Linked DNA regions of Homo sapiens. The protein of the gene in region 1 purifies or fractionates together with the protein of each later gene. This does not show direct contact. Each region holds a gene or a part of one and is shown in the gene's direction. Other genes may lie near its edges.

The links.
Region 2: the proteins of DECR2 (region 1) and WRAP53 purify together in Homo sapiens (co-immunoprecipitation; one large-scale study listed by IntAct). This does not show direct contact.
Region 3: the proteins of DECR2 (region 1) and GPR107 purify together in Homo sapiens (affinity purification with mass spectrometry; one large-scale study listed by BioGRID and IntAct). This does not show direct contact.
Region 4: the proteins of DECR2 (region 1) and WDTC1 purify together in Homo sapiens (affinity purification with mass spectrometry; one large-scale study listed by BioGRID and IntAct). This does not show direct contact.
Region 5: the proteins of DECR2 (region 1) and RGS3 purify together in Homo sapiens (co-immunoprecipitation; one large-scale study listed by IntAct). This does not show direct contact.

The regions. Positions count from the first base shown.
Region 1 is NC_000016.10:405,855-411,884, forward strand, and holds part of DECR2 (peroxisomal 2,4-dienoyl-CoA reductase [(3E)-enoyl-CoA-producing]), read left to right. Parts: intron 1-491; coding exon 492-543; intron 544-1,570; coding exon 1,571-1,706; intron 1,707-4,388; coding exon 4,389-4,513; intron 4,514-4,836; coding exon 4,837-4,930; intron 4,931-5,117; coding exon 5,118-5,222; intron 5,223-5,506; coding exon 5,507-5,724; intron 5,725-6,030.
Region 2 is NC_000017.11:7,690,295-7,696,324, forward strand, and holds part of WRAP53 (telomerase Cajal body protein 1), read left to right. Parts: intron 1-6,030. UniProt on the Homo sapiens protein: RNA chaperone that plays a key role in telomere maintenance and RNA localization to Cajal bodies. Specifically recognizes and binds the Cajal body box (CAB box) present in both small Cajal body RNAs (scaRNAs) and telomerase RNA template component (TERC).
Region 3 is NC_000009.12:130,101,575-130,107,604, forward strand, and holds part of GPR107 (protein GPR107 isoform 3 precursor), read left to right. Parts: intron 1-2,845; coding exon 2,846-2,976; intron 2,977-5,921; coding exon 5,922-5,965; intron 5,966-6,030. UniProt on the Homo sapiens protein: Has been proposed to act as a receptor for neuronostatin, a peptide derived from the somatostatin/SST precursor.
Region 4 is NC_000001.11:27,236,491-27,242,520, forward strand, and holds part of WDTC1 (WD and tetratricopeptide repeats protein 1), read left to right. Parts: intron 1-6,030. UniProt on the Homo sapiens protein: May function as a substrate receptor for CUL4-DDB1 E3 ubiquitin-protein ligase complex.
Region 5 is NC_000009.12:113,594,923-113,600,208, forward strand, and holds the end of RGS3 (regulator of G-protein signaling 3), read left to right. Parts: coding exon 1-58; intron 59-676; coding exon 677-843; intron 844-1,845; coding exon 1,846-2,031; 3' UTR 2,032-2,816; downstream 2,817-5,286. UniProt on the Homo sapiens protein: Down-regulates signaling from heterotrimeric G-proteins by increasing the GTPase activity of the alpha subunits, thereby driving them into their inactive GDP-bound form.

The DNA.
Region 1 (6,030 bases):
TGTGCTCTTTCGCAAGAACAGTAGATAAGCTGGAAATCCTAGCGGCATTCCTGGAACCAGGGTTCATAGAGGCCAACGTGGTGGATTCGCATCCACGTGGTCAGGAAGGGGAGCAGGGAGCACCCCGCTTCAGAACAGTCCTCCACGCCAGCCCCACAGGGAGAAGGGGGTGGAGAATGTGGGCCCAGCAGGCCCCAGGCAGATGTGTGGGCTGGGCGTCTGTGGCTCACAGCTGTCTCTGTACCTGGTGTTTGGGGCAGGACCCGCAGGCCTGTGCGGTGGGATGTCCCATGCCAGAAACCCCGGGGTGGGCACCACCTGAGGTCCCTCCAGAGTACCTCAGTCCTGTTCACGCCCCTGTGCCCTCTGCCAGCTGGGCCTTCAGCCTGGACTGGTACTTCCGCCTGAGAGACTCCTGCTCAGGAGCTGGGCAGATGCCCCGGGAGTGCCCCTCGCCCACACTGCCCTCACACCTGCTTCTGGTTTTGCAGGCACGGCTGCCATACGGTGATTGCCAGTAGGAGCCTGCCGCGAGTGCTGACGGTGAGAGGGCCTCTCCCATGGTCCCCTGTTCGGGTGGCTGTGGGGGGGCTGGGGCTGGGCCTGGGCCAGGAGAGTCCAGAGGCTATGGGGATGTTGGCACCAAAACTTTTTTTTTCTGAGACGGGAGTCTCGCTCTGTCACCCAGGCTGAAGTGTGGTGGTGCGATCTCGGCTCACTGCAGCCTCCACCTCCCAGGATCAAGCGATTCTCCTGCCTCAGCCTCCGGAGTAGCTGGGACTACAGGTGCCCGCCACCACGCCTGGCTAATTTTTGCATTTTTTTGGTAGAGATGGGTTTTCACCACGTTGACCAGGCTGGTCTCGAATTCCTGACCTCAGGTGATCCGCCCACCTCAGCCTCCCAAAGTGCCAGGATTACAGGTGTGAACCACTGTGCCCGGCCGGCACCTCAGCCTCCCAAAGTGCCAGGATTACAGGTGTGAATCACTGTGCCCGGCCGGCACCTCAGCCTCCCAAAGTGCCAGGATTACAGGTGTGAACCACTGTGCCCAGCCGGCACCAAAACTTGCACCTATCCTAAATATGGAGCTTCAGTGTAAGTGGCCTCCCAGAGACATCTTTGACTTTTTAAAAAATCTAGTTATTGGGTTCTGGGAGGGACCTTCCTGTTTGGGGGTAATGTGGCCCCAAGAAAGACCTCTGGGCTCACCTGGGTTATTTAGGTGGTCCGTGCGTCCCACCTACTGGAGCCCTCGACCTGGGAGGAGAGTCTCACCTGTGCCACCTCTGGTCTGCAGCAGGGGCAGGACATGGGTGACAGTGGCCTGGAGGGCGACGCAGAGGGAGGATTCTAGGACAGGTGGCAGGTGGGGGGAGAGCGTGGCAGGTTCCCACAAACATCCACTGGGGTCGTGGGCACTTGCAGGCTGTGCTTCCCCAGAGTGGGGTCCAGCAGCAAACCCAGGGTCCCCGAGGAACCCGGAAGCATCGTCCTCTGCAGATTCCAAAGGCCTTTTCTCCAGGCCGAGGCTGCAGGGCTGCTGTCTGCCTCTTTACCTGGCTTCTAGGCCGCCAGGAAGCTGGCTGGGGCCACCGGCCGGCGCTGCCTCCCTCTCTCTATGGACGTCCGAGCGCCCCCAGCTGTCATGGCCGCCGTGGACCAGGCTCTGAAGGAGTTTGGCAGAATCGACATTCTCATTAACTGTGAGTCGGTGCTGAGTGAGGTTGGTGGCTTCTCACAGGTTGGTGGTACCATTTGGAGGCCCTAGAACTCTGGTCATGGGGTGGGGACCATGCCAGGGAACCTAGCTGCCTGTGCTGGGGTGGGCTGCACCCCATCCAGGTACCTGAGGCCAAGACTCAGGCTCCGGCCCCCTGTCTCCGGCCCCATCTCCGGCCCCCTGTCTCCGGGCCCCTGTCTCCGGGCCTCTGTCTCCGGGCTCTGTCTCCGGGCCTCTGTCTTCGGCCGCATCTCCGGCCCCCTGTCTCTGGGCCTCTGTCTCCGGGCGTCTCTCTCCGGCCCCATCTCCGGCCCCCTGTCTCCGGGCCTCTGTCTCCGGCCCCATCTCCGGCCCCCTGTCTCCGGGCCCCTGTCTCCAGGCCTCTGTCTCCGGCCCCCTGTCTCCGGGCCCCTGTCTCCGGGCCTCTGTCTCCGGCCCCCTGTCTCCGGGCCCCTGTCTCCGGGCCTCTGTCTCCGGCCCTCTGTCTCCGGGCCCCTGTCTCCGGGCCCCTGTCTCCAGCCCCCTGTCTCCGGACCTCTGTCTCCGGGCCCCTGTCTCCGGGCCTCTGTCTCCGGCCCCCTGTCTCCGGGCCTCTGTCTCCGGGCCTCTGTCTCCGGCCCCCTGTCTCCGGCCCCCTGTCTCCGGGCCTCTGTCTCCGGGCCTCTGTCTCCGGCCCCCTGTCTCTGGGCCTCTGTCTCCGGCCCCATCTCCGGCCCCCTGTCTCCGGGCTTCTGTCTCTGGCCCTCTGTCTCTGGCCCTCTGTCTCCAGGCCTTTGTGTCCCGCCTTCTGTCTCTGGCCCTCTGTCTCCGGCCTGACTCCGCTTCTCTGGGTGGCAGCAGGTCAGCACAGCTGCAGCCCAAGTGGACGCCATGAACACAGCTCAATGGTAGAGTCGGGTGCCCTTGTGTCCTGAAATTCCGTCTTTAAAAAAAAAAGTAATAGCCTTTTTTTTTTTTTTAGACAGCATCTCACTCTGTCACCCAGGCTGGTGTGATCATGGCTTACTGCAGCCTCCACCTTCTGGGCTCAAGCCATCCTCCTGCCCCAGCCTCCTGAGGAGCTGGGACTACAGACGTGTGCCATCACGCCTGGCTAATTTTTATATTTTTTATTTTTTGTAGAGACAGGGTCTTAGTGTGTGTTGCTCAGGCCAGTCTCAAACTCCTAGGCTCAAGCAATCTTCCTGCCTTGGCCTCCCAAAATGCTGGGATTACAAGCAAGAGTCATCAATAAAATAGAAGCTAGCCTGGCCTAGCTTTTTTTTTTTTTTTAGAGGGAGTTTCGCTCTTGTTGCCCAGGCTGGAGTACCATGGTACAATCTCAGCTTACAGCACCCTCCGCCTCCCGGGTTCAAGCAATTCTCCCGTCTCAGCCTCCCAAGTAGCTGGGATTACAGGCGCCCGCTACCACACCTGGCTAATTTTTGTATTTTTAATAGAGATGGGGTTTCATCATATTGTTTAGACTGGTCTCGAACTCTTGATCTCAGGTGATCCGCCCGCCTTGGCTTCCGAAAGTGCTGGGATTACAGGCGTGAGCCGCCGCGCCTGGCCCCCAGCTTTTATTTTTATTTCTTTATTTTTTATTTTTATTGATTTTTATTTTTATTTTTTGAGAGAGTCTTGCTGTGTCGCCCAGGCTGGAGTGCAGTGGCGCAATCTTGGCTCACTGCAAGCTCCGCCTCCCGGGTTCATGCCATTCTCCTGCCTCAGTCCCCCAGTAGCTGGGACTACAGGTGCCTGCCACCACGCCTGGCTAACTTTTTGTATTTTTACTAGAGATGGGGTTTCACCATGTTAGCCAGGATGGTCTCGATCTCCTGACCTCGTGATCCGCCCGCCTCAGCCTCCCAAAGTGCTGGGATTACAGGCGTGAGCCACCACGCCTGGCCGATTTTTTTTTTTAAATCACAGTTTTAGGTTTATAGAATAATTAATAGTATATGGAATTCCATACTCCCACCTACAGTTTTCCCTGTTAACATCTTGCGTTTGTTACAATTGATGAACCAACACTGGTTTCACTCTGCAGAAATTCCCTTTTAAAAACATCCTGTGTATTAGTTTCCTGGGCTAACAGAGTACTACGACCTGTGTGGGTAAAACAACCGAAATATAATCTCCCAGTTCTGGAGGCCAGAACGTCCAAGGGGAAGGCGTCGGCAGAGCTATGCTCTCTGAAGGCCCCAGGGGAGAGCCTCTTCCTGCCTTCTGCGTGGCTTCGGGTACTGCCATAGCCCTTGGCCCTCCCGGGCTCGGAGACCGTCGCTGCACTGTCTGCCACTGTCTTCCCGTGGCGTGTGTCTGTGTGTCCTCTTCCCTTGTTATAAGGATGCTGGTCATTGGATTTAGGGCTCACCCTAATTCGTTGTGACTTCAGTGTAATTCGATTATCTCTGCAACCCACCCCATTTCCAAACAAGGCCACAGTCGCAGGTACGGAGCCAGGGCTTCAGCATGTCTTCTCTTCTCGGGGACACAGTGCAGCCAGGACGCCCGTCTTGCTCTGGTCATTTTGGAATTTATCCTAGGGCATGGGTCTCCTCCCTGTGCCACAGGGCACCTGGGCTCCCTCCTGCACCCTCCGCTCTGCCCACCTGGCCACCACCCACTTGGCATCCCTCTCCCCAGGCTCCAGCAGCTCCTGCGGTCTCCCATTCTGCAGGTGCGGCCGGGAACTTCCTGTGCCCCGCTGGCGCCTTGTCCTTCAACGCCTTCAAGACCGTGATGGACATCGATACCAGCGGCACCTTCAATGTGTCTCGTGTGCTCTATGAGAAGTTCTTCCGGGTGGGTGCCTCGTGCGCTCTGTGAGAAGTTCTTCCGGGTGGGTGCCTCGTGCGCTCTGTGAGAAGTTCTTCCGGGTGGGTGCCTTGTGCGCTCTGTGAGAAGTTCTTCCGGGTGGGTGTACTCCCAGCGGGGGCCTCCCCCTGACGGCCGCCCGCTCCCTGCCCTGGGCCTCCCCATGACGGCCGCCCGCTCCCTGCCCTGGGCCTCCCCCTGACGGCCGCCCGCTCCCTGCCCCGGGCCTCCCCCTGACAGCCACCCGCTCACTGTCCTGTGACCTCCCCCGACACCCGCCCGCTCACTGCCCCGGGCCTTGTGTGTTGCAGGACCACGGAGGGGTGATCGTGAACATCACTGCCACCCTGGGGAACCGGGGGCAGGCGCTCCAGGTGCATGCAGGCTCCGCCAAGGCCGCTGTGGGTATGACCACCCCCCCCCGCCCAGGTTTGCCCACGTGGGTCCCCAATGGGCCGTCTGCTTCCATCCCAGGAGGCCAGCAGTCTCCACTTGAAGCTGAGCCCAGCTGCAGGCAGCGAGACCTGGCCTTGGCCCTGCGCCCTCGCAGAGGGCAGAGCGGCCCTTTCATATCCAACTTTCTTCTGTGCAGACGCGATGACGCGGCACTTGGCTGTGGAGTGGGGTCCCCAAAACATCCGCGTCAACAGCCTCGCCCCTGGCCCCATCAGTGGCACAGAGGGGCTCCGGCGACTGGGTAAGGCTCTCAGGGAGCCCAGGCCTCCCACAGATCCTCTCCTGGGGCACAGGGTGCCCATGAAGCTTCCAGAACCTTGGCAGGGTGTATGTTGAAAAGCCCTGTGCTGGTTCCATGGTGGCAACTATGTTCTGTGCCTGGCCTGATCCTGCTCCATGCTAGGCCTTGGTGACACTGACTGTGTCCTTGCTGTTCCCAGATGCCTCTCAGGGAATGAGCTGGGGGAGAGGGGAGGGTGCTGGGTCTTGGGGCTCACGGGGCCTGAGCCTTCTGCTGCCCTCCAGGTGGCCCTCAGGCCAGCCTGAGCACCAAGGTCACTGCCAGCCCGCTGCAGAGGCTGGGGAACAAGACCGAGATCGCCCACAGCGTGCTCTACCTGGCCAGCCCTCTGGCTTCCTACGTGACGGGGGCCGTGCTGGTGGCCGATGGCGGGGCATGGTTGACGTTCCCAAACGGTGTCAAAGGGCTGCCGGATTTCGCATCCTTCTCTGCTAAGCTCTAGGTGAGGTACTGCTCCCGCTTCTTGGGGTCATCTGTGTCCTTGGACGCTGGTCACTGCATGGGCAGGTCTCTGCGGGACCCACGGGGCTGGCGTCTCCTTTGTCCCCATCCTCCCGGCCCCTGCGCCAGCCTGCCCACACATGGGTGCTGCCCAGTGGGGCTGAGCAGGAGGCGGGCGCTGGTGTACTTGCTCTTCTGTAGCGGCCTCGGCCTCTGCCGGCATTTCTGGCAGGTGCTGGGTGGCCGAGGCAGCCGAGGTGTTTTAGGGGGAAGCCGTCCTCAGCCGGCTACTAAGTTCTGAAACTCC
Region 2 (6,030 bases), on another chromosome or scaffold:
TGGGATAAAGTGGTGGACAAGACAGATGAAGGGCTGGTTTGCTTTCTGTGTGGGAGACAGACAACAAACATGTAAACCAGCAAGCATCAGGACCAAGATGATGATAAATGCTCTGAAGGAAATACACAGAATGAAGAGAGACTAACTAGAGGAAAGCACATTGCATAAAATGGTCAGGAAGGAGCTCTCTGAAAAGGAGGCATTTGAGCTAAGACCTGAAGGAGGATAAGGGATCAGTCATGTGAAGGCTTCTGGAAAGAGCTTTCCAGGAACTGGCAATGATACTATAAACACCCAGAACTGGGAAATAGCTTTGTGCGTTAAAAGACCAGAAAGGCCCTGCATGGTGGCTCACGCCTGTAATCCCAGCTACTCAGGAGGCCGAGGTGTGCAGATCACTTGAGGCCAGGAGTTCGAGACCAGCCTGGCCAATATGGCAAAACCCCATCGCTACTAAAAATACCAAAATTAGACGCATGTGGTGGCACGCGCCTGTAATCCCAGCTACTTGTGTGGCTGAGGCAGGAGAATCTCTTAAACTCAGGAGGTGGAGGCTGCAGTCAGACAAAATTGTACCACTGCACTCCAGCCTGGGCGACAGAGTGAGACTCCATCTCAAAAAACAACAAAACAGACTGGGCTCAGTGGCTCACACCTGTAATCCCAGCACTTTGGGAGGCTGAGGTGGGCAGATCACCTGAGGTCAAGAGTTTGAGACCAGCCTGGCCAACATGGCAAAACCTCATCTCTACAAAAATACAAAAATTAGCTGGGTGTGATGGTGGGTGCCTGTAATCCCAGCTACTTGAGAGGCTGAAGCAGAAGAATCATTTGAACCCAGGAGATGGAGGTTGCAGTGAGCCAAGATCATGTCACTGCACTCCAGCCTGGGTGACAGAGTGAGACTCCATCCCAAAACAAACAAACAAACAAACAAACAAACAAACAAACACAAAACAAAAAACCCAGAATGCTGGTATAGCCAGACTGAGGCAAGTGAGGGGGACAGAGGGGTGAGGACAGAGAAGAGCAGCCACGTCGTGTTGGTTCTTATGGGTAAGGCATTTGGAGTTTATTTGGGAAGTCATGAGAGAGGTGTTTTTTTTTTTTTTTTGAGACGAGTCTTGCTCTGTCGCCCAGGCTGGAGTGCAATGGCGTGATCTCGGCTCACTGCAACCTCTGCCTCCTGGATTCAAGCGATTCTCCTGCCTCAGCCTCCCGAGTAGCTGGGATTACAGGCACCCGCCACCATGCCCAGCTAATTTTTGTATTTTTTTAAATAGAGACGGGGTTTTACCATATTGGCCAGGATGGTCTCGTACTCCTGACATTTGATCCGCCGGTCTCGGCCTCCCAAAGTGCTGGGATTATAGGCATGAGCCACCGCGCCTGGCTTAATTTTTGTATTTTTAGTAGAGACAGGTTTTGCCACGTTGGCCTGGCTGGTCTCAAACTCCTGACCTCAGGTGATCCACCTGCCTCAGCCTTCCAAAGTGCTAGGATTACAGGCGTGAGCCACCATGCCAGGCCATGAGAGAGGTTTTTTTTGTTTGTTTGTTTGAGACAGAGTCTTGCTCTGTTGTCCAGGCTGGAGTGCAGTGGCACCATCTCAGCTCACCGCAACCTCCGCCTCCCAGGTTTAAGTGATTCTCCTGCCTCAACCTTCCGAGTAGCTGGGATTACAGGCATGTGCCACCACACCCGGCTAATTTTTTTGTATTTTTTTAGTAGAGATGGGGGGTTCATCATATTGGCCAGGCTGGTCTCGAACTCCTGACCTTGTGATCTGCCCACCTTGGCCTCCCAAAGTGCTGGGATTACAGGCATGAGCCACTGCGCCCGGCCAAGAGAGTTTTAAAACAGAAGAGTGAATGGTTTATGGGTGGGCAAGAGTGAAATCCAGGGCCAGGCACGGTGGCTCACGCCTGTAATCCCAACACTTTGGGAGGCTGAGATGGGTGGATCACCTGAGGTGAAGAGTTTTAGACCAGCCTGGCCAACATGGTAAAACCCTGTCTCTACTCAAATACAAAAATTAGTTGGGGCTGGGTGCGGTGGCTGACTCCTGTAATCCCAGCACTTTGGGAGGCTGAGGCAGGTGGATCACCTGAGGTCAGGAGTTCGAGACCAGCCTGGCCAACATGATGAAACCCCATCTCTATTAAAAATACAAAAAATTAGCTGGGCGTGGTGGCGGGCGCCTGTAATCCCAGCTACTCTGGAGTCTGAGGCAGGAGAATTACTTGAACCAAGGAGATGGAGGTTGCAGTGAGCCAGGATTGCACCACTGCACTCCAGTCCAGGCAACAGTGTAAGACTCCGTCTCAAAAAAAAAAAAAAAAAAAAAAGATTGGCTATAGTTTTCTCCCACCCATCCTAATCAGGTTCTGCCTCCATCGCTTCCTGAAAGTGCTCTTGTCAAGGTCACTAATGTCCTCTTGGGTCATTCTCCTTTTTTTTTTTTTTTTTTTTTTTTGAGACAGAGTCTCGCTCTGTCACCCAGCTGGAGTGCAGTGGCGCCATCTCAGCTCACTGCAAGCTCTGCCTCCCGGGATCACGCCATTCTCCTGCCTCAGCCTCTCCCGAGTAGCTGGGACTACAGGCGCCCGCCACCACGCCTGGCTAATTTTTTGTATTTTTAGTAGAGACGGGGTTTCACCATGGTCTCGATCTCCTGACCTCGTGATCCTCCTGCCTCGGCCTCCCAAAGTGCTGGGATTACAAGCATGAGCCACCGCGCCCAGCCCCTCTTGGGTCATTCTCTAAATTCGCCTCACTGCATCTCTTAGCAGCATGAGTCACTGTCTCCACCTCCCTGCGCTGGAGCACTCAGGCACTCAGGGCTCTGCTGGGCCTTCTCCTCCTCCATCAGCACTCTTTCTTTTTTTTCTTTTTTTTGAGACGGAGTTTCAAAAAATCAGACCCACCAAGGCATGTGGCAGTTGTGTTGCTCTTTGCTCGGTACCCGCTAGAGGTCTGTTGCCATTAATTTGAAATGAGACCAGTTAGTGTGACTGTGCATCTTTCCTGGCAAGTTAAATGACTATAGTTTCTCTGTTTGTAAAATGGGGATGATTATAATAGCACCTGCCTCACAGAGTTGTGAGAATTAAAATAATCAGTAATGAATTAAAGCACTTAAGGCCGGGTGCGGTGGCTCACGCCTATAATCCCAGCACTTTGGGGGGCCGAGGCAGGTGGATCGCCTGAGGTCAGGAATTCAAGACCGACCTGGCCAACATAGTGAAACCCTGTCTTTACTAAAAATACAAAAATTAGCCGGGCTTAGTGGCGGGCGCCTGTAATCCCAGCTACTTGGGAGGTTTGAGGCAGGAGAATTGCTTGAATCCAGGAGGCGAAGGTTGCAGTGAGCTGATCGCACCACTGCACTCCAGCCTGGGCAAGAGAGCAAGACTTAGTCTCAAAAAAAAATAATAAAATTAAAAAAAAGTACTTAAAACAGCACCTAGCATATAGTAAGTGTTCGGTAAACACTAGTAGTCACTGGTATCAGTTGTGTGCAAGCCAAGAATAGGAGGATGGTATGGTTGAGGTTTACCAGGAGAGAAAGACAAGGGTATCCTGAGAGTGTCTTCAAGAGTGTGCATGCCATGGTGGACTAGAATCTACAGTGGGTAAGGAACTGGACTGTAAATAAGTTTTTGATGAAGCTGAATAAATTGTCATGGTAGAAATAGCAGAGCAGGGTCAGGCCTGGTGGCTCACGCCTGTAATCCCGACACTTTGGGAGGCCGAGGCGGGTGGATCACCTAAGGTCAGGAGTTCGAGACCAGCCTGGCCAATATGGTGAAACCCCGTCTCTACTAAAAAAGATACAAAGTTAGCCAGGCATGGTCGTGATTATGATATTAATGATTATAATATTAAAACATTTTAAAAAATATATCTTGCAATACAGATAGTCAATTTGTTTTCTTTTTTTCTTTCTTTTTTTTTTTTTTTTTTTGAGACAGAGTCTCGCTCTGTGGCCCAGGCTGGAGAGCAGTGGTGTGATCTTGCCTCACTGCAACCTCTGTTTCCCGGTTCAAGCGATTCTCCTGCCTCAGCTTCCTGAGTAGCTGGGATTACAGGCACGCACCACCGCACCCGGCTAATTTTTGTATTTTTAGTAGAGATGGGGTTTCGCCAAGTTGGCCAGGCTGGTCTCAAACTCCCGACCTCAAGTGATCCACCCATTTCCGCCTCCTAAAGTGCTGGGATTACAGGCGTGAGCCACTGCTCCTGGCCAGTCAGTTTGTTTTCAAAAGATTTTTGTGGCTGGTGTGGTGGCTCATGCCTATAATCCCAGCACTTTGGGAGACCAAGGTGGGAGGAATGCTTGAGCCCAGGAGTTTGAGACCAGCCTTGGTAACACAGCCAGATCCTGTCTCTATCAAAAAAGTTGGGCCTATGGTCCCAGCTACTTGGGAGGCTGAGGTGGGAGGATCGCTTGAGCCTGCGAGGTTGAGGCTGCCATGACCTTTGATTGCACCATTGTACTCTAGCCTGGGCGACAGAGTGAGACTCTGTCTCAAAACAAACAACCAAAACCTTTTTGTGCTTTTTTTTTTTTTTTTCCTGCTAGTGTACCAGTTCTATCGCAACCTCTCTCATTAGGTATTTTCATTTTTAGTGTCTACAAGCTTAGCATTTGAAATAGATAACTTTTTTTTTTTGAGATGGAGTCTTGCTGTGTCCCCCAGGCTGGAGTGCAGTGGCGCGATCTCAGCTCACTGCAAGCTCCGCCTCCCGGGTTCACGCCATTCTCCTGCCTCAGCCTCTCGAGTAGCTGGGACTACACGCACCCACTGCCACCACGCCAGGCTAATTTTTTGTATTTTTAGTACAGTCGGGGTTTCACCATGTTAGCCAGGATGGTCTCGATCTCCTGACCTCGTGATCCGCCCGCCTTGGCCTCTCAAAGTGCTGGGATTACAGGCGTGAGCCACTGCACCCGGCCTTAAATAGATAAAATTTGTATAGGTCAGAAAATTGGGGAAGGGTGTATTTGGGTATTTCCATATACTTGTGTGTACTGAGTCTTCTTCCCAATATAGTTTCTCGGGTTTTCTCCTTTCTTTTCCACCTTTTCACAGAACTTTCTGCAAGTCTCATTTCCAGCTCCCCAGCGTCTTTCCTGAGTACTTGCCCTGCCCCGTGGGTCTTGCAGGAAGCCTTTACTCCTCGTCTTGCCCTCTCCAGGAGACACTTTGCATCCTCTGTACCCTTTATCTCTCAGGGTGGGGACGGGGAATGTCCTCATTCCCAAATGCTGTAGCCACACAATTGCTCTTTCGTCTTTGTGAAACTTTTCCCTTGAGGCTTATGCTGATTCTCTCTCCCGCTGACGACGTTGGCACTGTACAGCCTTCCGGTGCTCTCCTGTTCGCCCGCCATTTTGGTGACCTCAGGTATCCAAGCCAAAAGCCAGGGTCTCTCTCATCCTTTAATCTTTAATCTCCCTGTTCCTAACCCCTCACATCCAATTACTTCCCAAATCCCATCAAGTCTGCCTAATCTTCCTAATCCACCCACATCTGTCCCTCCCACTGCCTCTACTTTAATTCAAGGTCCTATTATTTTGGGCCTTATGTTGCTGAAACAGTCTCCTGCCTCCTTTTGCTCATTAAAACCGTATTTGTTGACTCTGCTTATTCTGCACCACGTGTTGGGGAAGCAGTGGTGAGAGCGAGGCAGATGTGATTCCCTCCTTCTCTGATAGGTATGACGGAAGGGGAGTGAGGAGCACCAGGGGCTATAGGAAAGAGGAACAGGGGCGCCTTGCTTAGCTGGAGGGGTTAGGGAAGCGTTCCCAGAGGAAGAAGCATCTAAGAGACCTGAAGGATGACTAGGATTCAGCCAGGAGGAGTCGTTGGGGGAGATGAAGGAAGAATATTCCAGACTTGGAGCCTAGGACATGTGAAAGCCAGTGGGTTGAAAGTGTGGCGAGTTGGCACTTTATGGGACCTGAGAGTCAAAATGGCGGGACTCAGAGATTTTTTTTTTTTTTTTTTTTTTTTTTGAAATGGA
Region 3 (6,030 bases), on another chromosome or scaffold:
TTATTAACAAAGTATTTTAAAACCGTGAACTACACCAGTGAGTTTCCACAGGTAGAATATGGTAGTAGACGTGAGGGGCAAACATTTCCTAAATCCTTACCATGTTTGGGGCCGAGGGCCAAGGCCAGCCTTACAAGGCTGTGAGTCTTTTGCGGGAGGAGCCTTGTCTTACTGGAAGCAGAACTTGGATGTAAAGAACTTACAATGAACAGAGAGGTTTTAGCAGGGATGCACAGCTACCCTGCTCTGCTTGACCAGACAGCGTCTGTTTGACAGAGTTGTCCCTGTGAACTTTTCTCACATTTTGGAGCACAAAGTAAATGTGGAAGGTTGGGGGTGGAAGGGGACAACTCCTGAGGCACCCAGATCAGCCGTCCCAACTCTGGCAGAGTTTGCAGCAGAGCTCCTCTCGGAGTTCTAACAGACCTCATCCACCCTTACGTTCAATAATGAGGAACATGTGTTGACATCAAATGAATGGGACAGGCCAGTTGCTCTGTGTTTCCAAGGAGAGAATAAGCACTCAAGTTGGAAGGATCAAGGAGGGCTTTGTGACAGAGATAGGGCTGGCCTGGGTGTTGAAGGAAAGGAATGTGACAGAGGCAGTAAATACACATGACCCTGCTGTCTGCTAAGCAAAACATGCTGAGGGACTGTGCCGGTCTTTCGGCTGTCGAGCCACCGTGGTCACTTCTTCAGCCAGACTGAGTCCTACAGCCTGCCGAGGTCTCGGAGTTGTGAATGACGGAGACTGGGTTGTCACCCGGCTGCGTGTGCCTCTTCCCTTTAGTAGAGTCCCTCATCCCTCTAGAGTCTCCCCCCACCAGCCTGAACCAGGCTGTCGTGGGGCATAGCCTTCCAGGAAGCCCGTCCTGGGCTTCCCTGAAAGACAGACACACAGAGTTCCATGGAATGTCAGTCTGAGAAGATAAGGACATTTAACAAATTAAGAAAGTCATGAGTATTTAGACAATAGAACTAGTCTGGGAGGGCCTTAAATGTCAGCCTGAAAAGTTAAAACTGCTTCCTTTTGGCCATGGGCAGTGACAGAAAGTTTCTAAGTAAGGAGTAGATGATGTCCCTGCAAAATGGTGTTTCAGGAACACTCTTGGCACGTTGTTCAACACTGGGAACATTCTGTCTCTCATGCAGTGTGTGAATTAAGGACAAAATGGAATTTTGAATTTAAGATGTGAAAGCCTTTGTTTTCTACTTTGTCCTCTTACTTTTAGACAGGGTCTCACTCTGTCGCCCGGGCTGGAGTACAGTGGTGATCATGGCTCACTGCAGCCCTAAACTCCTGGGCTCAGGCGATCCTCCTGCCTCAGTCTCCCGAGTAGCTGAGACCACAGACGTACACCATCACACCTGACTAATTTTTAATTTTTTTTTTTTAATTAGAGGCCGTGTCTCACTATTTTGCCCAGGCTGGTGTCAAACTCCTGGGCTCAAGCAATCCTTCTGCCTTGGCTCCCCAAATTTCTGGGATTATGGGTATGAGCCACCGCACCCAGCCCTACTTTGTCTTTTTAGATGGAGCCACAGATGCTAGTGTTTTGGATAGACAGGGCTTCACGAGCAGTGTGGGACAGGGAAGGACCCAGAAGCTGGGGGTCATTGGAGAGGCTGAAATTTCAGATAATTTTTGCATTAGTTTTAAATGAAATTTCGGATAATTTGATTCTAAGTCCTGTATAGAAAGAGAAATTAAACTTAGAGACTTCCTAAATAATAGCACTACAGATTTTACATGCAAAGTGTGGAGGATTACCTTTTACAGCAAGTCAGGCAGAGATTTGGGACCAGGGACTTCTCATGGGGTATATAGGTGGAATGATAACCTCTGCATCCATTCCCAGTGGTAATCTTCAAAAGGATGTATTATAAGTGGTAAATTTCCCTTATGCTCTGTGGCATCTCAGTTTAGCCAGTGGAAAGACTTTTTATAAAGACTTATGCTAAGAGCCTAATAACGGGCCTGAGTACAGAGCTTAATAGTGGGCCTGAGTATATGAGGCTGTAGGGCTGGAATCAGCCATGCTCACCCTCTGGTCTCTGAAAACACAGTTCCATTGTCTGGCACTTAGATGAGTTATTGTCACTGAGCACCATGGCCTGAAAAGTATGGGCATTGTGGCTAAATAGGGTGTTAAGTGCCACCTATCCAGCAGTCCAGCACCTGAGTGACTCCACTGGGTTTGGGGTACCTGAAAAGCAAAGTGTCCCTGTTATCTACTGCTGCATAACAAATCACCCCAAAACTCAGCGACTTAAAACGACAATAACCCGTCATTCTCTCTCTCAGTTTCTGTGGGTTAGGAATTCAAGAGTGGCTAGCTGGGTAGGTCTGACTTGGGTCTTGTGGTCATAGTCACACCATGGCTGGGAGCATCTTGAAGTCTCCACTCGCATCTGTCTTCTGGGCTGAGAAGCTTGCTCAGGTGGGGACTGGGACAGCCGGGGCTCCTGGGGGGGCCTTTCCATCTCTGCATGGTCTGTACAGCAGGGTAGTTTCAGGGTAGCCAGACTTCTTACAAGAAGGCTTAGGGCTCCAAAGGTCCCAAGAGAGCTGGGTGGAAGCTTTATCTACCTTGGAAATCACACAGCAGTACTTCCATCTTACTGTATTAGAGCAATTACGGCCTGTGCAGATTCAGGGGGGTGGCATAGAGACTCTCCTTGATAGCGGAGTGGCAGAGTTCTGGAAGAGCACGTGGGACTGGAAAGAATGCTGTGGTCGCAGATCGTGGGTCTGGAGGCCAAGGTGTACACCCCACATTGGGGCTGCTAGCATCATAACAGTCCACCCATGCTTTGGGGCCTCAGCAACTTCTCATGTCTGTAGGTCCTGGCAAATGTAGCCTACATCATCATAGAGTCCACCGAGGAGGGCACGACTGAATATGGCTTGTGGAAGGACTCTCTATTTCTGGTCGACCTGTTGTGTTGTGGTGCCATCCTCTTCCCAGTGGTGTGGTGAGTAGCTCACAGGGAGGGAGGCCACATGACAGCTTGGCTGTCAAGCCCAATAGCTGAACTGGCCATTCCCAAACTGATCTCAGTCACATGGGACGTGTGTTTAAAAGTACAGCTTTCTGAGTCCCAGACTGACCTGAATCAGCCTCCAGGGGCAGAACCCTGTGTCTTTTTCCAGTTACTCGGGGTATTCTGGCAGAGCTAATCCGTCACCATGAGCTGGCATTTAACAGAGTTCTAAGACAATAGAGAGGAATTGGGAAATGAGAACTTGGTAGTAACTTAAAGTAGCAGCCTGAATTTGTGGTGGTGGTAGGGAGTTGGAGAAATCCCATAAACAGCCAGTTCTTGCCAACTTAGGTGGAAAATGAGGAAGTTCATTAACATAAAACTAGTGATAGTTCTCAGCACACAAACATTTTTGATGTTTTCAGAATGGATTGCTCCATTCCTGGAAATGGCAGTGTTTAGATGCACAGATTGTGCATTGGGTCTGTGTAAAGAAGTGTTAGTGTCAAGTCAGTGGTTGATGAGAAAATATCCTTATTAAATCACATGCAGAGTGGTAGAAATTCAGAAGGCTAGCAGCAATAAAACACTTTACCCTTAGTGATATAATTCCATGGCTATTGGAATGCAATTCTTTTGAAATAAATTTTAAAGAAAATAGATTCACCCCGGCCTTCCATTACAAGTGCTTCTTTTTTTTTTTTTTAACCCGAGATGGAGTTTCGCTCTTGTTGCCCAGGGTGGAGTGCAATGGCTCAATCTCGGCCCACTGCAACCTCTGCCTCCTGGGTTCAAGTGATTCTCCTGCCTCAGCCTCCTGAGTAGCTGGGATTACAGGTGCGTGTCACCATGCCTGGCTAATTTTTTTTGTATTTTTAGTAGAGACAGGGTTTCGCCATTTTGGCCAGGCTGGTCTCAAACTCCTGACCTCCGGTGATCCACTTGCCTTGTCCTCCCAAAGTGCTGGGATTATAGGCATGAGTCACCGCAGCTGGCTGAGGTGCTTCTTATTGCAATGCCCCATCCAGTAAATTAATATTTTTGAGGATCCTGGGGTTTGTCAGTTACTCTCATTATTTATAACATGGTGCAAATGGAGAGTACTTCTCATTCCAGCCAGTTAGATTCACTCTTCACCCTCATTCCATCATACATCACACATGATCTCGTATCAGTTCAGCAGACAGCTACCAGCATAGAAGAGAGTATGAATGATGCTCCCACCTCAGCCTCCTGGGTAGCTGGGACCACAGGCACACACTACCATACCCAGCCAATTTTTTGTAGACAGGGTTTTGCCATGTTGCCCAGGCTGGTCTCAAACTCCTGGGTTCAAGTGATCTTCCCACCTCAGCCTCCCAAAGTGCTGGGATTATAGGCATGAGCCACCGCACCCAGTGGAATATGAATGACTCTTCCTCCTCACTGCAGCCTCCTGCCGTCCTGCACAGGAATTAGTCACTCGGGTATCTAACATAGGATGTCCAGCATTGTTTCCAGATCGAAAAGAGCACCTCATTAGGGAACAGAGGTTCACACCCTACTTTTACACATGCCACTATCAGAATAGTCAAATATAAGGAACCCCAACAAGCTGTCGAGGTGTAAGCAGCCATTTCCTGCCCCTTGTTAATTACAACACTAATGAGCAGATTCCAAATGGCAAAATTCCTTAAGGTAAATATCCTAAAAATTACTGTAAAATGAAAAAAGTCAGTAAGTACTGGAGAGGTGATTCAAGATTAATAATATTTTTAGGCTGGGCGCGGTGGTTCACGCCTGTAATCCCAGCACTTTGGGAGGCTGAGGTGGGCGGATCACGAGGTCAAGAGATCGAGACCATCCTGGCCAACATGGCAAAACCCCATCTTAACTAAAAATATAAAAATTAGCTGGGCGTGGTAGCATGTGCCTGTAGTCCCAGCTACTCGGGAGGCTGAGGCAGGAGAATTGCTTGAACCCAGGAGGCGGAGGTTGCAGTGAGCCAAGATCATGCCACTGCACTCCAGCCTGGCGACAGAACAAGACTCTGTCTCAAAATAAATAAATAAATAAATAAATAATAATAATAATAATAATACTTGTAAATATCCCGATTCAGCCAGCATTGCTTCAGGGCCAGCAGTGTACTGGTTAGCTTTCGTGTGGTGTTCCATTCAGTTCTCAAGCAGATAGCCCCTCTCACAGGTGGGCAAATTACGGAGGATTTAGGAAGAGTAATTGATTTGCTGACAAGAGTGAGTGACAGTGTCAGACCACAGCCGCCTTCCCTCACACAGCCTGTCTGCCTGTGCCCTGTTCAGCCCTCAGGGAAGTCTCTCTGTTGGTGGCTTTTCATGGTGCCTCCACCTCTCACCTGCGGCTCCTGTAATAATGTTAATGTTCCTCTGCCTGAAATGTAATGATGGTCATTAGGTACCAGCACATCACAGCCCCAGACAGTGTCCCTGGAGGCTGGCATTTTTCAGCAGTGTTAAAAATCTCCACTCGATAAGTTTGCATGGTGCTGTATGTTCACAGCTCTTAGACCTAGACTCTAGAAGTCAGCTGGTGACTTTCTTCTAGGGTTTATTCTCTCCTGGTGGCAGGTGAGCCCAGTGATGCTCCATTGTCATGGGAGTGTTGGGTAGGGGGTGGTTGTGGGAGTGAGAGATTAACAGGAGCATTAAATGATGGAGTTTTGTTTTCTCCTCACGCTCTGGTCCCTGCTAGACTTATTGCCACAGATTTGGCCAGCAGAGGGCGACTTTACCTCAGACGTGTTGATATCAACCATTTCCCCCCCTCTACCCGTTTTAGGGAGAGTGCTCTAAAGTGATGTAGTCCAACCTTTCAGCATGTAATTGAGAAATTCAGCCTCAAGTTACTAGAGCTGGAAATAGAGAGGAGTGCAGATTTGTCAGCTAACTTTTTGTTCTCTAAATGTTTATTTTTAGGTCAATCAGACATTTACAAGAAGCATCAGCAACAGATGGAAAAGGCAAGTTCTCTCGTGCTCATTTTGTGTTGCTCAGCTTGCTCTGAACCCACGTGCTGCGGCACTGC
Region 4 (6,030 bases), on another chromosome or scaffold:
GCCGAATAATTGAGCAGTAGCCCATATTTCTGCCTGGGACACCTTCATTGAGGGTCACGAGGGAAAGAGAGAACACGTGTAAATATTATGATGATGATGTTAACAACTATTTACCAGTTTCATACAATTGACAGTTTTTTTTAGCCGGGAGGAGTTCAGTATTGACTCATTGGGCATCTTATGTAGGGTGTTTTTGCACACCTAGACTTTAGGATCTGGAAAGACAACTGAAAATCTTGAAGCCCACTGCCAAACATTTGTGGATCTTGGGCCAACTGCTAAGGAAGATCTAGACTATGACTTGGTCTTTAATTATTTTTATTTTTTTCTCCTTTATGTATGTATGTATTTATTTATTTATTTTTTGAGATGGAGTCTTGCTCTGTTGCCCAGGCTGAAGTGCAGTGGCGCGATCTCAGCTCACTGCAACCTCAGCCTCCTGGGTTCAAGCAATTCTCTGCTTCAGCCTCCCAAGTAGCTGGGATTGCAGGTGCCTGCCACCATGCCCAGCTAATTTTTGTATTTTTAGTAGAGATGGGGTTTCACCATCTTGGCCAGGCTGGTCTTGAACTCCTGACCTCGTGATCCACCGACCTCGGCCTCCCAGAGTGCTGGGATTACAGGTGTGAGCCACCGCACCTGGCCTCTCCTTTTATTTTTATTTTTTTGAGATGGGGTCTCACTCTGTTGCCTGGGCTGGTCTCAAACTCCTGAGCTCAAGGGATTCTCGTACCTCTGCCTTCCTAGTAGCTGGGACTACAGACACGGCCTCCGTGACCACTCTCTTCTCTCTTTTTAAAAATTAAGGAATGTTGCTGACATGTGCAGTTCTGAGTCTCAGAGAGGAAGTCAAACAGAACATGTAATCTGGTGATACTTGTGTTTTCTTTGGGTCACTGGTTTAGTTATCTATTCTGTTTCCTTTCTTCTTTCCACCTCACCTTTCCAGATGCTCCACTGTATCTTTAGGCTGCCATTGCAGATTGCTGGGCCCACAAAACCCTTAGGTTGTACTTTCTTAGCTGTCATCTCTTGAAAAGCCAAAGTTCTGGCAGTTGCTATTAGAAACCAGTTCCTGGCTGAGCGCGGTGGCTCACGCCTGTAATCCCAGCACTTTGGGAGGCTGAGGTGGGCAGATCACGAGGTCAGGAGATTGAGACCATCCTGGCTAACACGGTGAAACCCCATCTCTACTAAAAATACAAAAAAAATTAGCCGGGCATGGTGGCACGCGCCTGTAGTCCCAGCTACTCAGGAGGGATTTTCCTACTAAGGCAGGAAAATCGCTTGAACCCAGGAGGTGGAGGTTGCGGTGAGCTGTGATCGTGCCATTGCACTCCAGCCTGGGCAACAAAAGTGAAACTCCATCTCAAAAAAAAAAAAAAGAAAAGAAAAGAAAAAAAAGAAAGAAGCCAGTTCCTTGGTGTAGTTAATTTACTTTGAGAGGTATTTGCCAGTTGGGATATGTCCTAAAAAGTGACTGACATTTTATTCAGGGCCTGGTATATCTTGAGCTCAGTGCTAGCTAGTATTTTTACTTTATCCAGTGTAACCTTCATGACTGTCCTGTGAGGTGAGAATCATTTTCCCTATTATACCTATGAAGAAACAGATTCAGAGAAATTAAGTTATTTGCTTAAGGTCACACAGCAAGTAAGAGGAAGGACTGGAATTCAAACCCAGGTCTCTCTGCTCTGTGATATTGAATTGCCTCTGGGACTGTGACACATGAAGAAGAACTGAAAAGACCAAGGCTAAGAGCCTGGGGGAACATGATACCTCATTCAAATACTTGAAGATTGTCATGGGGAAAGGAAACTGGATGTTCTCTGTGATTCTAGAAGGCATCTCAGGATTAAATGACATAATTTCCAAGAAGGTAGACTTTGGTTTGATAGGAGATAATGTAGCTTTCTAAAAACAAAATGGGCTGCCTTGTGAGGGAGTGAGTTACCCATCATTGCAGATATTCAAGCAGAGAGTTTGCCACATCTTTTTTTTTTCTTTGAGACAGAGTCTTACTTCGTCATCCAGGCTGGAGTGCAGTGGCATGATCTCAGCTCACTGCAACCTCTGCCTCCCAGGTTCAAGTGATTCCCATGCCTCACTTCATCTTCCAGGCTGGAGTGCAGTGGCATGATCTCGGCTCACTGCAACCTCTGCCTCCCAGGTTCAAGTGATTCTCATGCCTCAGCCTCCCAAGTAGCTGGAATTATAGGCATGTACCACCACGCCCATCTAATTTTTGTATTTTTGTAGAGATGGGGTTTCACCATGTTGACCAGACTGGTCTTGAACTCCTGACCTCAGGTGATCCGCCCGCCTCAGCCTCCCAAAGTGCTGGGATTACAGGTGTGAGACACCGCGCCCAGCCCCGGCTAATTTTTTTGTATTTTTATTAGAGACAGGGTTTTGCCATGTTGCCCAGGCTGGTCTTGAACTCCTGAGTTCCACCTGCCTCGGTCTCCCAAAGTGCTAGGATTACAGGCATGAGCCACCGCTCCTGGCTTTTTTTTTTTTTTTTTTTTTATGAGACAGGGTAGATGGGAAGACAGGTGTGTGCCATCACGCCTGGCTAATTTTTTAATTTTTTCATAGAGATGGGGTTTCACTATGTTGCTCAGGCTGGTCTCAAACTCCTGGGCTCAAGCAGTCTGCCTACCTCAGCCTCCCAAAGTCCTGGGAATACAGGTGTGAGCCACCATGCCCAGCCTCCCTGTCTGTTTGATCTGTAAAACCTAACATGGCTTGGCACGGTGGCTCACACCTGTAATCCCAGCACTTTGGGAGGCCTAGGTGGGTGGATTGCTTGAGCCCAGGAGTTTGAGACCAGCCTGAGCAACATAGTGAAACCCAGTCTCTACAAAAAGAAAATTTAAAAATTAGCCAGGTGTGGTAGCATGTGCCTGTATTCCCATCTACCCAGGAATCTGAGGCGGGGGCATCACTTGAGTGCAGGAGGCAGAGGTTGCAGTGAGCCAAGACTGCGCTACTGAACTCCAGCATGGGCAACAGAGACCCTGTCTCAAAAAAAAAAAAAAAAAAAAAAAGCCAGTTGTGCAGTGGCTCATGCCTGTAATCCTAGCACTTTGGGAAGCTGATGTGGGCAGAGCTCAGGAGTTGGAGGCCAGCCTGGGCAACATGGCAAACCTGTCTCTACTAAAAATACAAAAAATTAGCCAGCCGTGGTGGTGCACACCTGTAATCCCAGCTACTTGGGAGGCTGAGTCATGAGAATTGCTTGAACCTGGGACGCAGAGGTTGCAGTGAGCCAAGATCGTGTGCACTCCAGCCTGGGGGACAGAGTGAGACTCTGTCTCAAAAAAAAAAAAAAAACCAAAAAAACCCAAAAAAACTAACATGTATTGAATATTTAGTATATACCAGGCACTTGCTAGATACTTTTTCTTTCTTTTTTTAAGACAGAGTTTTGCTCTTATTGCCCAGGCTGGAGTGCACACGATCTCTGCTCACTGCAACCTCCGCCTCCTAGGTTCAAGCAATTCTCCTGCCTCAGCCTTCTGAGTAGCTGAGATTATAGGTGCGCGCCACCATGCCTGGATAATTTTTGTATTTTTTTAGTAGAGATGGGGTTTCACCATGTTGGCCAAGCTGGTCTCGAATTCCTGACCTCAGGTGATCCACTCACCTTGGCCCCCCAAAGTGCTGGGATTACAGGCATGAGCCACCAGGCCCAGCTCTACTTTTTCTATAATGTCTCTTATAATCTTCAGAGCTCCCCTGGAAGGAAGGTATTACCATTATCCCCACTTTACAAATGAGAAACTGAGACTCTAGACTAAAGTTAAGGAATATGCTGGAGGTTACACAACTAGTAGTGTAGGGCTGATATTTGAACCCATGTCTCCTCCTTAGCTCTGTGACCTAGGGCCAATCATGTATCCTCTCAGAGCTATAGTTTCACCTATAAAATGAGGCTTATTGTAGTACCTACTTTTTAGTGGGTTTTTGAGGACTAAATGATGAAATATATCCTTTTTACTAGACCTCACTGATTGCCCTCAAGAGCCAGGGCTTGGATGTAAAGGAATACCACTTAGTTGGCTTCTTCTGGGTAAATTCAGGCCTATGTGTAACTCTGAGAGTTCTAGGGCCCATTCTTTGAGCTATTAAGTAATAGCTGCTGACTCCTTGAAGGGCTTTGTGGCATTGAAGACTAATACCTTAAAAACTTTTAAGCCTGGGCTGGGCGCAGTGGCTCATGCCTGTAATCCCAGAACTTTGGGAGGCTGAGGTGGGCGGATCACAAGGTCAGGAGTTTGAGACCAGCCTGGCCAAGGTGGTGAAACCCTGTCTCTACTAAAAATACAAAAATTAGCCTGGCGTGGTGGCGGGTGTCTGTAGTCCCAGCTACTCAGGAGGCTGCGGCAGGAGAATCGCATGAACTCAGAAGGTGGAGGTTGCAGTGAGTTGAGATCGCAACACTGTACTCCAGCCTGGGTGACAGTGAGACTCCATCTCAAAAAAAAAAAACAAAAAAACTTTAAGCCTGAATAAGGGGAGGATGCAGTCAAAAGGCCAGAGTGTATAGGAGGCAGTGTCAGAGGCCCTGTGCAAAGAAAATTCTCAGCTACTACTGCAGAGCCAGATTTGAGGGTCACCGTTGGCATTTTTGTATTTATTATCTTCTTTTAGGATACAAGGTCACAACTGCTAGAGCTGTAACAGAGCTCAGTGCCAAGAATAATGACCCTTAATCCTCCGTATAGCCATCTGGGGAGGTATTAACCCCATTTTCTTGGAGATGGGGTGGAGAACAGGATCAGACCTTGCCCAGGGAGCTCTCCAGAGGCTGTTGAGGGCAGTGTTTGGATCAGGACTTTTGTACAATTTTGTCCTTATTCATGACCCCCCAAATTCTATAAAACTGCTTATCCTTGAACCTCTTAGGGGGCCTTCCTGAGAATGGGAGCTAGGCATTCATGGTCAGGGAGCTTCATAGTTGAGGCCTGAGTGTTTGGGTGCTGATGGCCTACCTGGTTCCCTTTTGAGTTACACATCTGGATATAACACTACTGTCACTGAGTTAGAAAGGAAACATTTCTAACTTGAATGGTTTAGTTTTCCTTGACCTTGCAGCTAGTAGTAGAGTTACAGGATGAAACTCCAGAGCCTTCTCTACAAGAGATATTTTGAATTGTGGCAGGATTTGTCAGGATGCAAGTTAAAGACTGCAGATGCTTTTAAATAGTGAGAGAGTATAGCATTATCAAAATATGCTCCCTTTTCTCTGTTTCCTTCCACTATCTTAAGGTAATTGTGAGGCCTAAGAGCAGACAGGAAAATTAGCTATGATCACTGGAAAACAAAGTTCTGAAAACATCCAGAAAAAATTTTCACAAAGCTCAAACAAGTGGCTGGGTGTGATGTCTCACACTGTTTTTTTTTGTTTTTTTTTTTTTGAGAGTCTCGCTGTGTCACCCAAGATGGAGTGCAGTGGTGCAATCTTGGCTCACTGCAGCCTCAGGCTCCTGGGTTCAAGCGATTCTCTTGCCTCAGCCTCCTGAGTAGCTAGGATTACAGGCGTGTGCCATCACGCCTGGCTAATTTTTGTATTTTTAGTAGAGACGGGGTTTTACCATGTTGGCCAGGCTGGTCTCCAACTCCTGACCTCCAGTGATCCTCCTGCCTTGGCCTCCCAAAGTGTTGGGATTACGGGGATGAGCCACCGTGCCTGGCCAGATGGTTCACACTTGTAACCCTAGCACTTTGGGAGGGTGAGATGGGAGGATTGTTTGAGGCCTGGACTTCAAGAACAGCCTGGGCAAAATGATGAGACCCCCATCTCTACAAAAAATAAAAATAAAAGTAGCCAGGCATGGTGATTTGCACCTGTAATCCTAGCTACTCAAGAGGCTGAGGCAGGAGGATCCCTTAAGCCTAGGAGTTCAAAGTTGCAGTAAACTGTGATAGTGCTACATTCCATTCCAGCCTGGGGAACAGAGCTAGACCCTGTCTCTTTTTTTTTTGAGACGGAGACGGAGTTTCGCTCCTGTCGCCCAGGCTGGA
Region 5 (5,286 bases), on another chromosome or scaffold:
ACCTCAGAGGAAGCCCTCAAGTGGGGCGAGTCCTTGGAGAAGCTGCTGGTTCACAAATGTAAGTTGGGCCTGCCTGCCCACTCCCTGTGCCCTCTCTCCCTCTCCCCTTCGCCCCCATCCAGACCCTGTGTAGCTGGTGCTAGAGAGGCCGCCTTCCCTCTCCTCGGCCGTCAGGGTGTCCTTGCTGTTGCGGAGGGGCTGAGCCCAAGCTGAGGCCCTTGGTCTGGCCTTGGAGCCAGCTTCTGCCAGCCCCTCCCCGTCCATGTGAGCTGGCACTGCCTGCCGGAGGCCCGTGGGACCTGTGTGCTCAGATCCATATTCCCAGAATAAGAATAAACATTTCTACGTACTGAGGGCTTTCACGGCGCCAAATGTGCCTGCCATCTCATGGGCAGGGTCCCATCGGCTCCTCCCAGGGCTCCGGGAGACAGAATCGATAGTCCCCATTTCACAGATGAAGACACTGAGGCATAGAGAGGGGGAGACCCCACTGAGACCCTGAAAGAGGCAGTGGCAGGGCTGGGGCCACATCCCAGGGCTCCTGGCTGTCGGGGACGGGCATTGTACTCAGCTCCCAGCACGCCCATCTTTAAAGTCCTGTAGGGGTAAGCTGAGGCATCTTAAGGGCAGGAGAGGCTGAGTTTGCCTCTTACCCCAGGATCCGTTCTCCTCACAGACGGGTTAGCAGTGTTCCAAGCCTTCCTTCGCACTGAGTTCAGTGAGGAGAATCTGGAGTTCTGGTTGGCTTGTGAGGACTTCAAGAAGGTCAAGTCACAGTCCAAGATGGCATCCAAGGCCAAGAAGATCTTTGCTGAATACATCGCGATCCAGGCATGCAAGGAGGTAGGACCTCAGGGCAGACCCTCCGCTCCTCCAATCCCCAGGGCCCAGTGGCCCTTCAGCTGCAAGGTGGCAGCCAGCAGCACAGGAAGGGGAGAGGCCAGAATGACTCCATGAGCCCAGGTACCCAGCAGGGAAGATGCAAGCTAGGATCAGGGGAAGAACAGAATCCCAGTTAGTAATAAAAATGGCCACCACCAAGGCACTGCCGCATGCCAGGCATGTGCTGAGCCCTTTATGTATGCGTTCTCATGTTTAATCCACACAACAACCTGTGAAACGAAGAGACAGGCTGGGCACAGTGGCTCATGCCTGTAATCCCAGCACTTTGGGAAGCCGAGCCAGGCGGATCACTTGAGGTCAGGAGTTCGAGACCAGCCTGGCCAACAGGGCGAAACCCCATCTCTACTAAAATTACAAAATTAGCCAGGTGTGGTGATGGGCGCCTGTGGTCCCAGCTACTCGGGAGGCTGAGGCAGGATAATCGCTTGAACCCGGGAGGCGGAGGTTGCAGTGAGCCGAGATCGCACCACTGCACTCCAGCCTGAGTGACAGAGACAAATCATAATTGCTCCCATCTATTGAGTGCCTACTGTGTGCCAGGCACTATGCGCAAAGCACATTATATGGATGATCTTGCTTGGTTTTCACGCTTTGAGGAATGTACTATTATTCCTAGCTGGTAGATAAGACAACTGAAGCTCACCGCACTTAAGTAATTTGCTTCAAGTCACACACCCAGGTGTGGCACTGCTAGGATTTGAACCCAGGAAGCCTAACCCTCAGGGTGGTATTTTCAGCCTTATAAATGCTGCCAGCCCTACAGGAAATGACTGAGCCAGGACTTGAATCCTCTGGTCTGAGGGTCTCTACTTCAGATGAACCTTAAGATGTGGGGCAAAGGGGCTTGGAGGTGAGAGGCTGGATGGGTCCCTTCCAGGCACATGGGCCCTAGGGTCAGTCCCCAGCAGGCAGCCCTGACCATGTCCCCCTCTGCCTCCCCAGGTCAACCTGGACTCCTACACGCGGGAGCACACCAAGGACAACCTGCAGAGCGTCACGCGGGGCTGCTTCGACCTGGCACAGAAGCGCATCTTCGGGCTCATGGAAAAGGACTCGTACCCTCGCTTTCTCCGTTCTGACCTCTACCTGGACCTTATTAACCAGAAGAAGATGAGTCCCCCGCTTTAGGGGCCACTGGAGTCGAGCTCAGCGTTCACACCAGGCGGGCTGGGTCCCCTGCCCACCTGCCTCCCTGCCCCCTGTGACGGAGGGGGCAAGCAAGCCCCCAGAGGCTGTGTCTCTGGACAGACGGATAGACATACGGAAGCGAGGCCTGGACCAAGAGAGGCCCAGGCTACTGGAGGAGTAGAAGGATGGGCCCCGTGGGGTCCCCACTGCCCCGGTACGAGGGGGCCCAAGACCCTGGCAGGTCAGGGGCCCTGGCCAAGCCAGATCTGGAGCTGCTGCTCCCTGCTGCGGAGACCGCGGAGGCTTCGCGTTGACCAAGTTCCTTAAAGAACTGGCTGATGGGGCAGGAGGTCCAGGCCTGGGCTCTCGGGCCCTCCTAGAGGGCCATTGGAGCTTGCAGCTCAGACCCCCACTTTGAGTTTTATTTATTTAAATAGTAGTTGGATGCTTGGCACGTCGTCCTGTAATAGGAAACCCTTGCCTCATCAGTTTTCCTGATTTACAAGTGCAATATTTTAGCCAATGCCTTGGGAGAAGCTGCCATGCAAAGGTGGACACCATTCTCCAGCTTCAGGGGATATGCTCGTCCCGGGCACCGGTGGCAGGCAGCTGGCCTTCTGGACTAAGGCAGCCTGGGGGGACACTGCAGTCTGGCTACACACAGAGATCTGGCACCCCCTGGGTGGAGTGTCCCTCGGGGGCTTTGGGAAAGCATGGCACCCTCAGACCACACAGTAGCCAAGTTCTGGAGCAAATAAAAGGCCTGTGTTATTTCTTGTTCTTGACCCTTTTTGTGTGTTCCTGGTCTTGAGCCTTCCCAGGGTGGCTGGGGCTGGGAGGGTTGGTCGTTGGGCTGTTGATTCAGCCACTGCTCTCTTGCCATCACCTGCCCCCATCCTGGAGCCCGATACACTGATACACTGGTGAGGGCTGCTCTCCCATGCCTTCCTCTGTGCCAGGCACTGTGCCACTCATCCTAGTGGTCACTGCATCTCCTCCCCAAGCCTGGGAGGTAGGGCTTATCCCCATTTTACAGATGAGGAGATGGAAGCACAGACAGGGAAGGTCACGTAGCCAGCAGGTGGCAGGGGTTCAGCCCAAGTCTGACTGTCTGCAAAGCCTGGGCTCTGCCGGCTACAGGATGGAGTCCTTGCTTATCGCCAGCTGGCCACATGTCTTTCAGCAAGTTCCTTCAATTCTCTGCCTCGCCACACCCTGAGGTTTGAATAGAACTTTCACGTGGTGCAGGGATGGCTGGTGAAGGTAGACGGGGCCAGAATCTCAGGAAGGGTGGTGGTGGGCTTATGGAGGCCTCTGGGCAGAAGGAACAGCTGTGGAGACAGGAGATAGGACTCACAGAGTCTTTCTGTGGCCCTGGGTAAGGCTTTCCCCACTGTGCCTTTGTTTCCCCTCCTACCTAACAGAAGATGCGAGTTTAGGAAAGGCCCAGGGCATCCTTCAAGGGAGGACCTGGGCCACTTGCCTAGAAGTGGGCAGAAGAGGCCCAGAGTCCAGGCCAAGCTGAAGGCAAAGCTGACCCCACATATATAACCTCCCAGGGGCCAGGGCATGGCCCAGGGTGGGGTCTGGCTCAGCAGGGCTGTCTTAGATTAAGCTAGATGGAGTTGATGCAGGAGGAGCTGGGCCCCGTCTCCTTGGATCTTGTTCCCTGCCTGGGGTCCTGCAGACTTGGAGCTGCAGACGACATGGGGCTGTACAGCTCCCTCCTCCCTGCCTCCCCTTACTCATCTCCCTGGGCAAGGCCAGCCCTGTTGGCCCCTCTGCACAGTGAGAGGATCAGAATTGTTGGTCTCTGGAGGCCTTCAGGGAGTTGGACTGAGCCCTCTTCAGGGTTACAGGGGACTAGAGCCAGGGCCTGGGTGTGGAGCAGAAGCTGAGCAGGGCTTCATCAGGAGGAAGAGGTGGGCTGTCTGACTGCCGCTCTGACCACACCTGACTTTTCCTGCCCCGCTTGCAAATGGGACCCCTAATGCTTGCTCACCCTTGAAACCCATTTGGAAGAATCTTCTGTGCAACAACAGTAGCCTAGGTCAGCAGAGAACCCCCTTCCCTCTGCTCCCCGGCAGCCGTGGCCTCTCCTTGACTAGCCCGTACTGAGTCAGGCATGGGTTTTTCTGTCTCCAAAGGCTTTGGAATCAGGCAATCCTGGGTTTGAGTCTTGTCTTTGCTACTGACTTGCTCTGTAACCTTGGCAAGTCACTGCCCATCCCTGAGCCTGCAAAAATGGGGATGATTCTATTGTCTTCTCAGTGCTGGGATGAACAGCCAGTGAGCCAGTTCTGCAGAAAGGTCCTAACCTGGGGCCAGGTATACCGTAGGTGCTTGATACATGTTGGCACCAGAGGGTGAGCCCCTCCAGGAGTGGTGCTGGGTCTTTCTCCAGGACCTGGCAATGAGTGTCATTGGGCTTTATAAACTGTGAAGAGCTTTCCCACTGTAGAGATTCAGTGTCTCACAGAGGCTGGAAGGGCCTGGGAAGAGTCGTGCTTCTAATTCTGAACAAGGGCACCTTCCAGGTTTTTTCCAGGCCTGAGATTTGGGGACCTGACAGCTGGGAAAACTGGGGCCCAGGGAAGACTATAATACTACTCCCTACTCCCCCAAAATGGTAGAGGCAGTACTGGGTCTGAGCCCAGGACTTCCCTGCCTGACCTGGCCTCTCTCGCATCTTCTGCTGGGAGGAGCCACTGGGTCCACAAGGAGACCCACCTTTCCAGTTCTTTATATTCTAGGGATTCAGTTTAGGGCCAGGCCTTCCCTCTTCCACCTTCCCAACCTCCTGGTTCCCAGAGTTGCCATGGAAACCAAAGTCCGGGAGAACAAAGTCAGGCAGATGGAATTCCCATTTCGGAAGGCCCCACTGCCTGGTTTCCATTACTCACACCCTGGTTCCCTTGGCCTCCGAGTGGCTTTGGCTGTGCAGAGCAGCTGGAGGGCAGACTAGAAAGGCGTCTGGGTCCCCCTGCCCTGGGCCCTGCCTGGGCTCCCTGGAGGACCTTGGGTACATTCTCTGCCCGCTTAGGCCTCAGTTGCCTCATCTGTACAGTGTCATTTGGGCTGGTTCCCATTTTCTTTCACAGGAGAGGAAGGAGCAGTGCTCTCTAGTCTCTGGCAATTCCAGGCGGTCAACGTGGGATCACAGAGCTGTGATGTCATTTCAACCAGCTCCTCCCCATCCCACAGATGGGAAGACTGAGGGGAGGGAAGGGAAGCAGCACTCTTCACTGTAGAGCT